Linked DNA regions of Homo sapiens: region 2 is linked to region 1. A link means that fine-mapping ties the variant in region 1 to the expression of a gene that starts in the linked region. Tissue or cell type: skeletal muscle. Region 1 holds a variant in brackets; the other region holds the start of a gene. All regions are shown on one strand. Distances are from middle to middle.

What was found. PIP is the estimated chance that this variant, and not a neighbour inherited with it, causes the effect.
Region 2: it holds the start of ZNF483, and the variant in region 1 is fine-mapped to the expression of ZNF483 in skeletal muscle (GTEx, PIP above 0.99). The same link has a PIP of 0.9 or more in subcutaneous fat and sun-exposed skin.

What each region holds. Positions count from the first base shown.
Region 1 is chr9:111,569,557-111,577,556 of GRCh38, forward strand. It overlaps PTGR1 (prostaglandin reductase 1), which reads right to left. Exons shown (of 10, transcript NM_001146108.2): 8 at 5,178-5,286; 9 at 535-653. It also overlaps a transcript of ZNF483 not described here. Among named protein-coding and RNA genes, the nearest start is that of PTGR1, 26 kb to the right of the region's middle. RefSeq lists enhancers at 1,207-1,376, 3,297-3,466. The variant G/C (reference allele first, on the strand shown) is at 4,028.
Region 2 is chr9:111,520,318-111,528,456 of GRCh38, forward strand. ZNF483 (zinc finger protein 483) reads left to right here and starts at 4,862. Exons shown (of 6, transcript NM_133464.5): 1 at 4,862-4,945; 2 at 6,951-7,490. The coding sequence starts at 7,079. RefSeq lists a silencer at 4,765-5,114 and enhancers at 5,215-5,414, 5,526-6,025.

The sequences.
Region 1 (8,000 bases):
CACTTGAGACCAGCCTGGCCAACATGACGAAAACCTGTCTCTACTAAAAATACAAAAAGTTAGCTGGGCGTGGTGGTACACACCTGTAGTCCTAGCTACTCGGGAGGCTGAGGCATGAGAATTGCTGGAACCCAGGAGGCGGAGGTTGCCGTGAGCTGAGATTGTGCCACTGCACTCCAGCCTGAGCAACAGAGTGAGACTCTGAAAAGCCTCATATGTGGGTTTAAGGAAGAATGGAAAGAGAGGAATGGCAGACAGTGAGTGTAGACAGCACTTCCAGGTATTTTGTTATAAAAGGGAGAGAAGGGAAATGGACCTGCATTTGCAGTGGAAATGAACTTTAGAGAGGGTTGTTTTGTTTTCCTTTCAAAGATGGGAAAAGTAAGAATATTTATACTCTAAGCACAATGACCCAATAGGGAAAAACTGACGATGCGGCAGAGATGGGGAAGAATTGGTAGAACAAAAGCCTTGAGAGGCAAAGGGAGTGTGACCTAGTGTACAATTGGAAGGGGTGGCTCCGGAGCTCCTTACCTCTAAGACCCATTTCAGCAAGTCCTTCAGAGCTTTTTGGCGGGCATCTCCTTGCCAGCGGTAGACGACAAAAGCTTCCATGCGAAGCTCCTGATAGATAACAATCTCTGGGGGTGGGCCTGTGAAGAGAAGGGCACATTTGGGTGGCAGGATCCAGGGAGGTGCCCATGGTGAAACAAGCAGTACAGGTCACTGTCACTGTGCTTGGTGCTGGGAGTTTTTTGGTGCTTCTCCCCTTCCATTTCCTCACTCCTTTCTGATCCACGGGACTGCTGGCCAATCAACATGCACTCTGCAGCCAGGCAGAATAATGGCCCCAAACATGTTCATATCCAAAAACCCCAGAACCTGTTCCTTACATGGCAAAAAGGACTTTGCAGATATGATTAAGAAGTTTGGGGGTGGCGCGGTGGCTCACACCTGTAATCCCAGCATTTTGGGAGGCCAAGGCGGGCAGATCACAAGGTCAGGAGTTCGAGACCAGCCTGGCCAACATAGTGAAACCCCCGTCTCTTCTAAAAATTAAAAAAAAAAAAAAATTAGCTGGGCATGGTGGCGGGTGCCTATAGTCCCAGCTACTTGGGAGGCTGAGGCAGGAGAATTGCTTGAACCCGACAGGTGGAGGTTGCAGTGAGCCAAGATCGTGCCACCGCACTCCAGTCTGGGTGACAGAATGAGACTCTGCCTCAAAAAAATAAAAAGAAAAAAAGAACCTTGAGATGGGAATATTATTCTCCACTATAAAGATGGACCCAATATAACAGCAAAGGTCTTCGTAAGGGAATGAGGGATACAGGAAAGTTACAGTCAGGGACAGAATATGGGGTGATAGAAGCAGAGATGAGAGAGAGGAGGAGGAGGAAGAGCCTATGCCCCTGGCTTTGAGGACAGAGGAAGGGGCCACATGCCAAGAAATACAGGCAGCTGCTAGAAGCTTGAAAAGGCAAGGAAGCAGATTCTCCTCTAGCATCTTCAGAAGGAATGCAGCCCTGCCAACCCATTTTACTTTTAACCTCTAGACCTACAAGAATAAGTGTGTGGGGTCGGGTGCGTGGCTCATGCCTATAATCCAGCATTTTGGGAGGCCGAGGCAGGCAGATCACTTGAAGTCAGGAGTTTGAGAGCAGCCTGGCCAACATGGTGAAACCCTGTCTCTACTAAAAATACAAAAATTAGCTGGGCATGGTGGCACATGCCTGTAATCCCAGCTACTCAGGAGGCTGAGGCAGGAGAATCGCTTGAAGTCGGAAGGGGACTGCAGTGAGCTGAGATTGCACCACTCCACTCCAGCCTGGGTGACAGAGCGAGACTCGGTTTCAAAAAGAAAAAAAGAAGTAAACAAACAAAAGAATAAACATGTGGGTGTTTTTGTGTCTGTGTGTTTTGTGGTTGTCGTTTTTAATTTGAGACAGGGTCTGGCTCTGTTTCCCCAGGCTGGAGTAAAGTGGTGCCATCACTGCTCAATGCAGCCTTGACCTCTTGGCTCAAGTGATCTTCCCACCTCCGCCCTGCAAGTAGCTGGGACTATAGGTGCATGCCACCACACCTGGCTAATTTTTTTTAGTTTTTGTTTGTTTGTTTGTTTGTTTGTTTTTTCTGTCAGAGATGAGGTCTTACTCTATTGCTCTGGTTTGAAACTCCTGGGCCAAGCGATCCTCCTGCCTCAGCCTCCCAAAATATTGGGATTACAGGCATAAGCCACTGCGCCTGGCTAAGAATTTGTATTTCTAACAAGCTCCCAGGAGATGGTGATGCTGCTGGTCCTTGGCCCACACTTTGAAAACCAGCACCCCAGAAAAAGCACACAGCTCTCCTGCAGCCTGTAAAGAAGATACTACCCTTCTGCGTGTAAGGAAGAAAAAGTTTTTTGGTTGCCTGGTTGATTTTCCCAAGTGTCCTAATTGACTAGAAACTGACAGAATGACACCTCAGCATAGGCTTTCAAGTTCCAGGAAGTCAGGCGAAGATGCCTGGTGTGCTAAGACGAGTGGTGGAATCTAGCTTCAGCATCTTTGACCACTGGCACCACTCAGCCTAAAGTTCCCACTGATTACTTTGAGGAAAGTAACATTAGCAGTTGGAAATATGAAGCTTTGTCCTGAACCAAAAGAAACTAATGCAAGAGAATGAGACAGAAAGAGTGCTTCTTCAGAAGACCCACATCAACTATTCTTTGTGAGTTAGGGATTGGAACTCTCATTTCCTCATCTTAAATGAAAGTGGGATGGGCATGGTGGCTCATGCCTGTAATCCCAGCACTTTGGAAGACTGAAGGGAGCAGATCACGAGGTCAGGAAATCAAGACCATCCTAACACAGTGAAACCCTGTCTCTACTAAAAATAAAAAAAATTAGTCAGGCGTGACGATTTGTGCCTGTAATCCCAGCTACTCAGGAGGCTAAGGCAGGAGAATCGCTTGAACCGGGGAGGCAGAGGTTGCAGTGAGCCGAGATCGTGCCATTGCACTCCAGCCTGGGCGACAGAGTGAGACTCTGTCTCAAAACAAAACAAAAAACAATAGCCAGGTATGGTGGCACATGTCTGTAGTCTCAGCTACTCGGGAGGCTGAGGTGGGAGGATCACTTGAGCCCAGAAGGTGGAGGCTGCAGTGAGCCATGATTGCGCCACTGCACTCCAGCCTGGGCAACAAAGCGAGACCCTGTCTCAAAAAAAAAAAAAAAAAAAAAAAATTAAAAAATTAAAAAAAAAATCTCCAGTCTGGGAAACAGAGCAAGACCTTGTCTCAAAACAAACAAACCAATAAACAAAAAAGCAAAATGAAAGTGAAATGCTGTTTCTGGATTTGTGCGTGTTGATGAGAATGTTGGTTTTTGTTTTTTTACTGAGAGCAAAAAAGCATATGTAGCATTAAACCTGGAGGAAATCATTGCTTGCCTCTGAGCTATCCTAACAGTGGAATATGTTAGAATTTCTGGGGCTCTGTGGCAGGGCAGAATTCCATCTGATTAAAATGGAACGGACAAGGCCAGCTGACATCTCAAAGTCCTGTCTGAGCAGCTGAGCTTCCAAAGACTAATTGCTAAAAAGACTAGATCGAGTTACTGTATCCAAAATATTTGGCTATTCCTAATCGGACTGTGGTTAAGAAAAGGCCTCCTGCAGCTTTGCTCAGTTGGCAGGCAGACAATTTCCCATGATTCCAGCTTAGCACCAGTTAGAAAATTATAGGGGGAAAAAAAAGTCCCTAACAATAAGATTGCCAAGTAAATCTGGAGTTTCCTTCTTGGTAATGATTTTGATTTTTCACAACCTGAGAGGGAATCTACAAGTTGCCCTTTGTCAGCCCCTTCCTTTCTAGCCCCCCCATCTCCATACAGTTGTGTGGTGGTTAACCAGTGGGGCTATAAGGTTTCATTCCCATTAGTCAAGCTCATCATAGAATAAATAACCATTGATTTATGGTTGCCTGGATCCTGATTAGAGTCTGGAAGATTCCTTTTTTTCCTACTTTCTCGTACTTTCTCCTTTTTTG[G/C]GGGGGGACCATAGGTAATTTGTGATCTCTCTTAATAGCACAGAATCACTGTAGCAGAAACAGACTCTGTATGAGGAGCTTAGAAGACTGGTCTTTGTTTTGAGTCTGTTGCCAATAGGAGTTAAAGAGTCTCTGGTCCTCTTGGCCATTCCTCTCCACACCCATAAAATGAGAGGCCTGTACAAGGCATCTCACAGGACTGGGATTTAATGAATATGGTTCTCTGGTTGATACTGCTTTTGGACCTCAGAGTGTGGAGCGGGAGGGATGTGGTTTCAGCATAAGAGAGTAGGGAGTGGGGAATGGAGCGCATGGCAGGGCACCAGAGAAATAAAACAAGGACAATCAAGGAATGGAGGGAAGCTGCTGCTCCCTTCCCTTTTAGTGGCAATTGTCAGCCTGCTGAGGCCAAGACGCCCTACTGCTCCAAGAAGCACTGCCCAAGATTTCTGAAGGGCATGGCAGTCTGCTCTTCCCTTCACCCACAGCAAGTCACACTTTATTCCTCTCGCACCTCCAGCAATGTCTCTAATATCCAGAGGAACCTGAATATTTTACCAGCCAGACCAAGGTGTTCTGTTTCTAAATCAAATCATCACTGTCTTTTTACAGTTTTGCATTAAATGATAGGTAAAAACTAAAACTTTTAATAACTGTTTCTTTTATATTTGTAGATCTTGCTGTTTCTCTACATAAAAATCTAATATAAGCTGATTTAGCACAAAATATGTGAAATTATATATATTTTTATTTCTTTTGTTATTGTTTTTGTTATTATTATTTTGAGACAGGCTGTCACTTTGTCACCCAGGCTGGAGTGCAGTGGCAGGAACACAGCTCACTGCAGCCTCGCCTCCCAGGCTCAAGCAATCCTCCCACTTCAGCCTCTTGAGTAGCTGGGACTACAGGTGTACACCACCACACCCAGCTTATTTTTGTATTTTTTGTAGAGACGGCATTTTGCCATGTTGCCCAGGATGGTCTCAAACTCCTGAGCACTCACAAAGTGAGACTCTGTCTTAAAAAAAAAAAAAAAAGAATATATGAAAATCTTTCTAATAATTTCAGAGTCACTGGCCTATGGCATATCTGTGAATTTTCTCCTTGTCCAGCCTTGTGACATATGGGATCGTGTGCATGTGCTCATTACCTGGGGGAAGTGGGCCGGTTCTGTTATATGTAGAGATGGCTCCACATATGGCAATCCTTCCAAATTTCTTCATCTGGCCGATAACAGTGTTTGAAAACTCTCCACCTACCTAAACAGATAGCAAAGACAAAATGTTAAATAATCTAAATACTAGAGATTCAGGAGAATCATTAAGTCACAAGCATTATTTTACAATACCTGTTTTAGCAGCAACAAAACTGACTGAATTAGCCCAACAGTGCAGAAGACTGCAGTTAGAAAAAGACATTAGAAACAGGCATTTTCGGCCGGGCACGGTGGCTTACACCTGTAATCCCAACACTTTGGAAGGTTGAGGTGGGTGGATCACCTGAGGTCAGGCGTTCCAGACCAGCCTGGCCAACATGGTAAAATCCTGTCTCTACTAAAGATACAAAAAATTAGAAGGGCATGGTGGTGGGCACCCATAATCCCAGCTACTTGGGAGGCTGAGGCAGGAGAACTGCTTGAACCCAGGAGGCGGAGGTTGCATTGAGCTGAGATCACACTACTGCACTCCAGCCTGGGCAAGAGAGCAAGACTCCATCTCAAGAAAAAAAGAAAAATAAATAAACAGGCTTTTTCATTTGATTCTAAGACCATACCTTTTATAACTTATACATTTTCCTTTATTATATATTGAGGTTCTCTGATCAGTCCAATAACCTCATTGTCTTATAATTTAAAGGTATGGAAAAATACTCAAAAGGTGTATAGAGAACAAAGTTGGAAGACTGGCACTTTTCAATTTCAAAACTTAATACAAAGCTAAATTAATTAAGATAGTGTGAGAGTAGAAATACAGATCAATGGAACTGAATCACGAGTCCAAAAATGAACCCTTACATTTAGGATCAATTGGTTTTCTACAGAAGTGCTAAAGCAGTTCAATAGAGGAAAAATAGTCCTTTCAATAAACGTGCCGAACAACTGGATTTCCACATGGAAAATAATGCAATTGGGCCTCTTCCTTATACTACACACAAAAATTAACTTAAAATGCATCGTAGACCTGAATGTAACAGCTAAAACTATAAAACTCTTAGAAGAAAACACAGGAATAAATATTCATGACTCTGAGAAAGGAAAAGCCTTCTTAGACATGACACCAAAAGCTCAAGGAACAAAAGAAAAATAGATTAATTGGGCTTCATCAAAATTTAAAACTTTCATGCTTCAAAGAATACCATCAAGAAAGTGAAAGCCAGCCTGGGCAACATAGTGAGACTCCATCTCTACAAAAAAAAAATACATAAAAATTAGCTGGGTATGATGGTGCATGTCTGTGGTCCCAGCTACTTGGGAGGCTGAGGCAGGAGGTTGGCTTGAACCTGGGAGGTCAAGGCTGCAGTGAGCTGTCATCACATACTGCACTCCAGATTGGGAGACAGAGTGAGACTGGTGAGACTGAGTCTCAAAAAAAAAAAAGGGCAAAAACAAAAACAGAAAGAAGGTTAAAGGCAATTCACTGAATAGGAAAAAATATTTGCAAGCCATATAGAGTTGGTCCTCATTATTAGTGGATTTCATATTTGCATATTGTAAACTACTTGCTAAAATTTTATTTGTAACCTCAAACCAGTACTCACTAAGCTTTCCCTGGTCACTTGCAGACATACATGGAGCAGTAAAAAAGATGCAGATGTTCTCTGAGGCTGAATAAGACCATGCTCTGCCTTCTTGTTTCAACTGTTACACAGAGATGACCAGAGGATGGGGCCACTGCAGTGCAGTTCAAGAGGCTCTGGTTCGGGGAAGAGCTGGATGGAGTATGAATCCCAACTCTGGGGGTATTAGCTAGTGGAGTGGCCATAGGCAAGTTACTTAACACTTCTGAACCTCCTTTTGTCTTTCATAAAATAAAAGCTACTAGGATGAGTTGTTTTAAGGATTTCAGATTATAGTCTATGTGAGATATGTGCAAACATGTACATATTTCCCCTAGAAGCAATGGTTTTCAGCCTTGGTGGTGACCTTATAGAACATAAATATTGTGAATAATGAAAATCCACTGAATCTAATAAGGGACTTGTATCGGTAAGATGTAAAGAACTCTTGGCCAGGTGTGGTGGCTCATGCCTATAATCCCAGCACTTTGGGAGGCCAAGGCAGGTGGATCACCTGAGGTCAGGAGTTCGAGACCAACCTGGCCAACATGACGAAACTCCGTCTCTATTTAAAATACAAAAATTAGCTGGGCATGGTGGTGCATGCCTGTAATCCCAGCTACTCGGGAGGCTGAGGCAGGAGAATCACTTGAACTCGGGAGGTGGAGGTTGCAGTGAGCCAAGATCGCGCCACTGCACTCCAGCCTGGATGACAGAGCAAAAAACTGTCTCAAAAAAAAAAAAATCTTACAACCTCACAAATAACCTAGTTCAAAAATGGGCAAAGATTTTGAACAGATATTTCTCCAAAGAAGATATACAAATGGCAAATACATACGTTGAAAGATCCTTAATATTGTTAGCCATAGGGAAATGCAAGTCAAACTCAAATCAGAATGAAATATCACTTCAAACCTACTAGGATGGTTATAATAAAAAAGACAGACAATAGCACGTGTTGGTGAGTATGTAGAGAAGTTGGAACCCTCATACACTGCTTGTGGGAATGTAAAGTACTGTAGCCACTTTGCAAAACAGTTTGACAGCTCCTCAAAATGTTAAACATGAAATTATCATATGACCCAGCAATTCTACTCATAGGTATATACTTAAAAGAAATGAAAAATCCACACAAAAACCTCTGCATGAATGTTCATAGTAACATTATACTTCATAGCCAGAAAGTATAAGCTAATAC
Region 2 (8,139 bases), 49 kb before region 1:
GTGTACCTTGAGAAAAATCATTTAATGTACATATTGATGTAACATAAAATGGGGGTTTCTAACCTCAAATGGGCCCTTAACACTGCAGGGAAATCCTTCTGTGTTTTTGTGATCAACTCATATTCTCCCAGCAGCCATCTACTCTTTTTTTTTTTTGAGATGGAGTCTCGGCTCTGTCACCCAGGCTGGAGTGCAATGGCGTGGTTTCAGCTCACTGTAACCTCCACCTCCCAGGTTCAAGTGATTCTCCTGCCTCAGCCTCCCAAGTAGCTGGGACTACAGGCGCGTACCACTATGCCCGGCTAATTTTTTTTTTGTATTTTTAGTAGAGACAGGGTTTCACTATGTTGGCCAGGCTGGTCTCGAACTCCTGACCTCGTGATCTGCCTGCCTTGGCCTCCCAAAGTGCTGGGATTACAGGTGTGAGCCAGCACGCCCGGCCAAACCTAATCTACTCTTATCAAGCTTCAGATCCCACCCGTATCTCCCTTCTGGGGAGGTCCCAATAGTGGATCTCAGCAGGATCCATTAGATACCAGTTCCAAATCCAACTGCATCTACCCCCTTCTTTGCCTCCTTCCCTGCTATTACAATGAACACTGCATGCTGGCTCTGGCAGTTTAAAGCTAATTTCTCCACTTGTGCTTCCCCCTAGTTTCTCAGTCTTCACTCTACAGCATATTCCCACACTCTCTGTCTTCATCCCCTTTCTCTCTAGTGGATCCTTACGGGAGCTTCGTAGCTCACTTGCTTGCTATTTCTTTTTCTTTCTTTCTTTCTTTCTGGAACATACCACCCTCTGTGGCTCTACAGAGCCAGGCAGGAGGAATTTTTTGTTATTTCTTTTCAGGAGAGGGTCAGCTCCCCTAGAGTGGCTCTGGGATCTTTGGAGTCCCAGTTAAACCAGGACTGGAGGCACCTGGAAACAAGGACTTGGTGTCCTTGAGGCAGCTCAAACCTTTAGAGCTCAGAGGCCTCCAAAGTGGATGCACAAGAGCCCTGAGGGTCTTAAGGAGATAACTCCAAAGCTGCTAGGTGGGGAAGCCAGGACTTCAATCAGGAATGCACCTCTTTCATCTGTAATATTTCTTTTGGACAGTTTGGCAATTAACAACTAGTTTTAAAACACCTGTTTTAGATCCTTGATCAGAGTCCCAGCCTGTCCTCCTCCCTCTAGAGATGGGGAAGATGTGCTCCTTTCTCCTAAAAGCCTTGGGCTCAGAGCCAGTCAGTTTCCAATCTACCAGTTGAGTGACCTTGGGCAAGCCCCTCCCTGCGCTGGGTCTCATTTTTGAAAAAATAGGATATGGGGAGGGGTGGGCAGGACCTTGGGTCTTCAGTTTCTTTAAAGTGGAGTGAGTCTAGAAAGAAGACAGGGAAGCCGGGCGCAGTGGCTTACGCCTGTAATCCCAGTACTTTGGGAGGCCGAGGCGGGTGGATCACGAGGTCAGAAGTTCAAGACCAGCCTGGCCAAGATGGTGAAACTCCATCTCTACTAAAAATACAAAAATTAGCCGGGCGCAGTGGCAGGCGCCTGTAATCCCAGCTACCTGGGAGGCTGTGGCAGGAGAACTGCTTGAACCCGGGAGGCGGAGGTTGCAGTGAGCCGAAATCGCACCACTGCACTCTAGCCTGGGTGACAGAGCTAGACTCCGTCTCAAAAAAAAAAAACAAAAGAAAAAAAGAAAGAAGACAGGAAAATTAGACAGACTCTCCCCTTCAGATACACAAACAATCATACATACTTCCTCCCCAACTCTGTGTACGGGAACAGAGGCTGGGCAAGGGTCTAAGAAAACAGGAAATGTTAATACAAATAACAGGTCAGGCCAGGAGCAGTGGCTCACCCCTGTAATCCCAGCACTTTGGGAGGCCAAGGTGGGCAGATTACCTGAGGTCAGGAGTTTGAGACCAGCCTGGCCAACATGGCAAAACCCCATCTCTACTAAAAACACAAAAATTAGCCAGGTGTGGTGGTGAGCCCCTGTAATCCCAGCTACTCAGGAGGCTAAGGCAGGAGAATTGCTTGAACCTGGGAGGTGGAGATTGCAGTGAGCTGAGCTGAGATCACACCACTGCACTGCACTCCAGCCTGGGCGACATTCCGTCTCCAAAAAAAAAAAAAAAAAACAAATACACACAAAAAAATCATAGGAGAACACTATGCAGCAATGAAAATAAACACTGTATAATCACATGCAACAATATTGATAAATCTCACAGACATAATGTTGAATGAAAGAAGTCATAATATATGAAGAATATGTACTGTAGGATTCTACTTTCTTTCTTTTTTTTTTTTTTATTTTTGAGATGAAGTCTCACTCTGTCGCCCAGGCTGGAGTGCAGTGGCGCAATCTCAGCTCACTGCAACCTCTGCCCCCCTGAGTTCAAGTGATTCTCCTGCCTCAGCCTCTTGAGTAGCTGGGATTACAGGCAGGCGCCACCATGACCGGCTAAGTTTTGTATTTTTAGTACAGATGGGGTTTCACCGCGTTAGCCAGGATGGTCTCAATCTCCTGACTTCGTGATCCGCCCACTTCGGCCTCCCAAAGTGCTGGGATTACAGGCGTGAGCCACCAGCCCGGCCCTTCCATCACCTTTTAAACCACCTTCATTTTATGTCACCATCATGTTACCTGGATTATGATAAGACAAAGTCTTTTTATCTCTGGTGTTACTTCTTTCTAATCTACTGTCCATACTGAAACCAGAACAGTTAAACGAACAAACAAACAGCTCACTTAAAGTTCTCCTAAGTATGTTTTCCTGTTTAGAGATCCCACCAGCTTGCTTACCAGTGGAACTGATTTGTAGTTTCCTGCTTCCTTCCTGATGCACAGTCCATCACTCCTTACCATGATGGTTACTTTTAATCAAAAGTTATAGTTTGACTACCAGTTCCAAAAAGATGCCATTCTTTCCTGGTAATTTATTCATAGGTAGCATGTCATTTACTTACAGAATATTTCAACTAGTACTGTGTTTCTCAAAATACAAGATCACCTGCAACAAGTTGATGGGTGGGGAGGGCCAGAAGGTTCCAAAATCTGTATTCAAATAAAGAACACCATGTGATTCTAAAGTACAGTAAAGCTTGAGTAAGCTTTACTAAGTAAAGTGCCTCTGACTTGCCTGGTTAAAATAATGAGCCAATAGACATTTCCTATTCCTTTGCCTTCTCCAGCTTCTTCCTGATGCGTCTAAAGCCAGCCAAGGGGAGGTGGGTAAAGGAGAATATGCCATGGGACTCGGGACTGAGAAAACTTTTGTCTTCATTCTCAGCCCTGTTTCTTTTTTTTCTCTTTTTTTTTTTTTGAGACGGAGTTTCACTCGTTACTCAGGCTAAAGCGCAATGGCCTGATCTCAGCTCTTCACAACCTCCACCTCCCGGATTCAAGTGATTCTCCTGCCTCAGCCTCCCGAGTAGCTGGGATTATAGGCATGTGCCACCACACCTGGCTAATTTTTTGTATTTTTAGTAGAGACAGGGTTTCTCCGCGTGGGTCAGGCTGGTCTCAAACTCCCGACCTCAGGTGATCCACCCGCCTCAGCCTCCCAAAGTGCTGGGATTACAAGCATGAGCCACCGCGCCCGGCCATTCTCAGCCCTGTCTCTTCAGCTTGACTTGCTGCCTGTGATAAGCCCACTCCTTTTGAGAGGAGTGGTTCATTTAGTTGAGCTTGCTCTGCCCTTTTGAAGTCTCAGGGCCTTGAATCACCTTGCTCCTTCAGTCTAGAATGAATCTAGTCTTTCTCTCCTAACTCCACCCCTTCAGGGATCATCCAGTTATTAGAACCCTCCAAACAATTTTTCTGGAGTTCTTTGGCCCTTTTTGCAATGCCCCCAATAATCCATGCAAATACTCATTCATAAGCTCAACAAATATCTATTGAGTGCCTGCCATGGGCCAAGTCCTGTTCCAGGACCTAAACACACAACCTAGAACAAATGAAATAAAAATACTTACTCTTCTGAAATTAGTATTCTACTGGAGAAGGCGGACAAGTAGTAAAAAAAAAAATTAACAAACCTATAGGGCATGTTAGAAGAGGAAACAAGAGTAAGGTGGGATTCCTATTTAAGTGGAATGGTGGGAGAGCTTCATTGAGAAGACCTGAAGGGATGAGAGAGCGGGCCGTATGGCCACTTAGGGAAGGAGCAGGTCAGCCGGAAGTACCTGGCAGGTTACAAGAAGAGGAAGGGGTCTATCAAGATTGGAGCAGGAAAGTGGGGAAGAGGTGCGGGAGGTTACAGGGGCTAGATTCCATCAGGCCTTGTAGGCCACTATAAAGACTTGGGTTTTAACTCTGAGTGAAATGGGAAACCATTGCAGGGTTTTAAGCAAAGGAGGGTCATAATTTGACGTTTTTAAAACGTCCGTCTGGCTGTGGAGAATAGCCAAGAGAAGTAAGGTATAATCAAGAAGCTATTGCAATAATCCAGGTGAGCCATGAGGGTGGACTGGACCATGGGGGCAGGTGTGGAAGTCATAAGATTAATATGTGTTTAACTCAAGTTGTGGCATTAATTATGGCTTGCATTAAATGCATCGGTAATATGCTTCTGCGGTGGATTTTTCCACCTTAGATTTCAGGGAATGGAAGTGATGGGAGCGGGTAGGGAAGGTCTGAGGTTACTAAACAGATGGAGCCTCCTGGATCTGCAAACCTCATACGATTCTAGGCCTCTGAGCCTCTGGCGCAGCAATAATTCTGCAGCCGAGCCCACTAGCCGCTTCCCAGTGACCATGCGCAACAGGCAGGTGGGAGCCTATGGAAAGCGCGGACTTTCGGAAAGCTGCACGAGCGCGTTCGGGGAGTCCGGTTCAGCGCCTCTGCGCAGGCGCAGTGGTTCCCGCAGGCTTGCGCGCGCACTCGCTGCGGGACAAGCTTCTGGAAGCTCTTTGCGGTGGCGTTGGTGCTGTTTGCGGATGCTGATGCAGGTACTGGTCGTCCCGGGCCCCGAGTTTCGGGGCCGTGGCCGGGTCGCCGGCTCCGAGGGCGCACTTGGGGCGGGATGGGGGCCGGGAGCAGCCTACCAACGGGCTGTGCGCTGCGCTGCTGCTGCTTCTGTGGGAGGTGCGCACTCCGCTGCGGGATGGGGCTGTTGGCTTCCCTCCATCCCTCCCTGCGCCACTTGGGCACTGTTGACATTTTGGGCGGGATAATGCCTTGTTTTGTTTGTGGTGTGGCGGTGAGGGGGAGGCTCTCCCGTTGTGGCAGGATGTTTAACAGCGTCACTGGTTCTGCCCGTTAGATAACAGTACCACCTCTCGTCCTAGTCGAGCTAACCAAAAATGTGTCCAGACATTGCCAGAGGACCGCTGGGGGGTGAAATCTCTCCTTTTTTCTTCCCTCTGGTTGAGATCCTCTGGCTGCGTCACATTTTCACCGGGCCTCCTATGTAAACTCCCTGTAGACGGAGCCGAGTGTCTTAGTCATCGCGGAGCCCCAGGTGCTCAGCACGGCGCCAGGTACGTGGTGGGCGCCTAATATTTGGCAGAGGAATAAATGACGTCATGCTGCTGTGTGCCGGGCGCTGTACTCGGAAGTGGGTTGTTATTGGTATGGTAGTTGCAATGCGAGGCTGTCACATCCTTCACTTGTCGCATTGTAGTCCCGCTCCGGCTGTATTGTCATTTCCTGGACCCTCTGTGAGCGTGAGGACCCTTTCAGGCCTGTCCACGCCTGGCCCCGCAGCTCATGGCCCCTGGTCTCGTTCCAGCTCATTGTAGTTGCTCCGTCACTTATAGAATGAATGAATGAATGCAACACAGGGCAGTCTGTGTGCAAAGGAGTGCTTTGGGATCAAGCAGAGCATCACACCAGAAGTGACAGTTGAAAGGAGTCAGGCTTTAAAGACGAATAAAAGTTTGGTAGGAGAAAGAAAGCAACATTCCGAGGAGAGGGAATAGCCTTGGTGCAAAGGCTAGGAGAGTATGTAGAGAGAGAGGAGATACTAATTTATGGCTGTAGTGTCAATCGGGTAGCTAGAGCTCAAGAGGTGAGGTCATCAGACAGTGTCTCTAGATCACAATGCCATGGTCCCTGCATGTGAACTTTATCGAGAGACAGTTCGGTGGCTGGTGAGGGACTGTAAGCCGGGGAGTGATAAGATCATATTTTGCATGTTAGAAGGAATTTTTTGGCCACAGTGTGAGACTGGAGTGAAGAACCCTGTACTTAGGCAGTTTCAGAAGGATAGAATGGAGAGGTTCTTAGGAAATAAAATCGCCAGAACTTGGCGATTGATGGGAGAAGTAAGGAGGAAGAGAAATTTGAAAGTCAAATATTAAATTGGGCTTCTGAGTTGAGCAACTAGTGAGAAATGTGTGCCCTTTCATTAAGAAAGGGTAGGAGTTGTTAAATAGCTTTGTGACTGGGTCCCCTTGTGAACCTTTTCTGATAACATTTTGTTTAGGAGGAGTATTCAATCTAAAGCAACTGTTTCCTTAACCCTTAAGTAGCTCCCTGGTTTTTGACTATAAAGAAAATTATGGCTGGGCACAGTGGCTCACGCCTGTAATCCTGACACTTTGGGAGGCTGAGGTGGGTGGATCGCCTGAAGTCAGGAGTTCAAGACTAGCCTGGCCAACATGGCGAAACCCCGTCTCTACTAAAAATACAAAAATTAGCCAGGCATGGTGGTGGGCGCCTATAATCCCAGCTACTCAAGAGGCTGAGGTAGGAGAATCACTTGAACCCAGCCGGGGCAGAGGTTGCAGTGAGCCGAGATCGCACCACTTCACTCCAGCCTGGGCACCAAGAGCGAAACTCCGTCTCAAAAAAAAAAAGAAAGAAAGTTATCCTTTTAATTGAGCAGGGCTTTTCTAGGCCTTTGCTGGTATGTGTGTGGATATATTTCTCTGAACCAAACCAAGAACGATGTTTTTAGGACTAACAACAGTTTTTTTACTTATTTAATGCCTTAATATTTCTTCTTGACAGTTTCTGCAGGACTGTAAACTGGATTCCTGGAACCTTTGATATTCCTGGCTGTGTATAGTGCCTGTTGGTGGACTGTACTGATACTCAACTAGAGTGTGAAGGGACTGGATTCCTGCCCCTGAGACACAATGCAAGCTGTAGTGCCCTTGAACAAGATGACAGCCATCTCACCAGAACCTCAAACTCTGGCCTCGACTGAACAAAATGAGGTCCCAAGAGTGGTTACTTCTGGGGAACAAGAAGCTATTTTAAGAGGAAATGCTGCTGATGCAGAGTCTTTCAGACAGAGGTTTAGGTGGTTTTGTTACTCAGAAGTAGCTGGACCCAGGAAAGCTCTGAGTCAACTCTGGGAGCTCTGCAATCAGTGGCTGAGACCAGACATTCACACGAAAGAACAGATTTTAGAGCTTCTGGTGTTTGAGCAGTTCCTGACCATTTTGCCTGGGGAGATCAGGATTTGGGTAAAGTCACAACATCCTGAGAGTAGTGAGGAAGTGGTGACCCTAATAGAAGATTTGACCCAGATGCTTGAAGAAAAAGGTGAGATTTATAGATGGAGGGAGGAAGCGGGAGACATTGCCTCAAAGTCCGAAAGTAAATTCCTCAAAAGAAGGCAATTTACTGCTAAAGAGGAGTCTGAGGTTAGAAGTTGGGACTGGGTTTGAATCAGCCCTGCCATTTACTGTGTGATTTTGGGCAAGCTGTGTAAACTCTCAGAATGTAAATATTTTTATCTGTTAAAAAGGGATTTTATCTTTCTTGTAGTTTTCTTGTAAAGGTGAGACAAGATAGGATATAATATATGGTGGATGCTCAAGAAATAGTAATTTCTTTCCCATCCCCTTCAAGAACACAAGTTATCTGTGAAAGTGTTTGGAGTCACAGGCAAATCAACCAGCTCAGGCCCTAATGCCTAGTTCCATTGTGTGGACTAGCACGTTGCTAGAGGGTGGCTGTGAGTGTCTTTGCTGATGGAAATGTTTCTGCACTGTTTTGCAATTCAAGTACATGAAAAGCAGCTAGTGCAAATAAGGAACTGAATTTTTTAAATCAAATTTAAAGTTTAAATAGCCACATGCGACTAGTAACTATTTTATAGTGCAGTTCCACAGCCTTAGGGCAGGAAAACCTGGATATATGTATGTAATTACATATTATAAATACAAATGTATAAACTATAAACTGAATT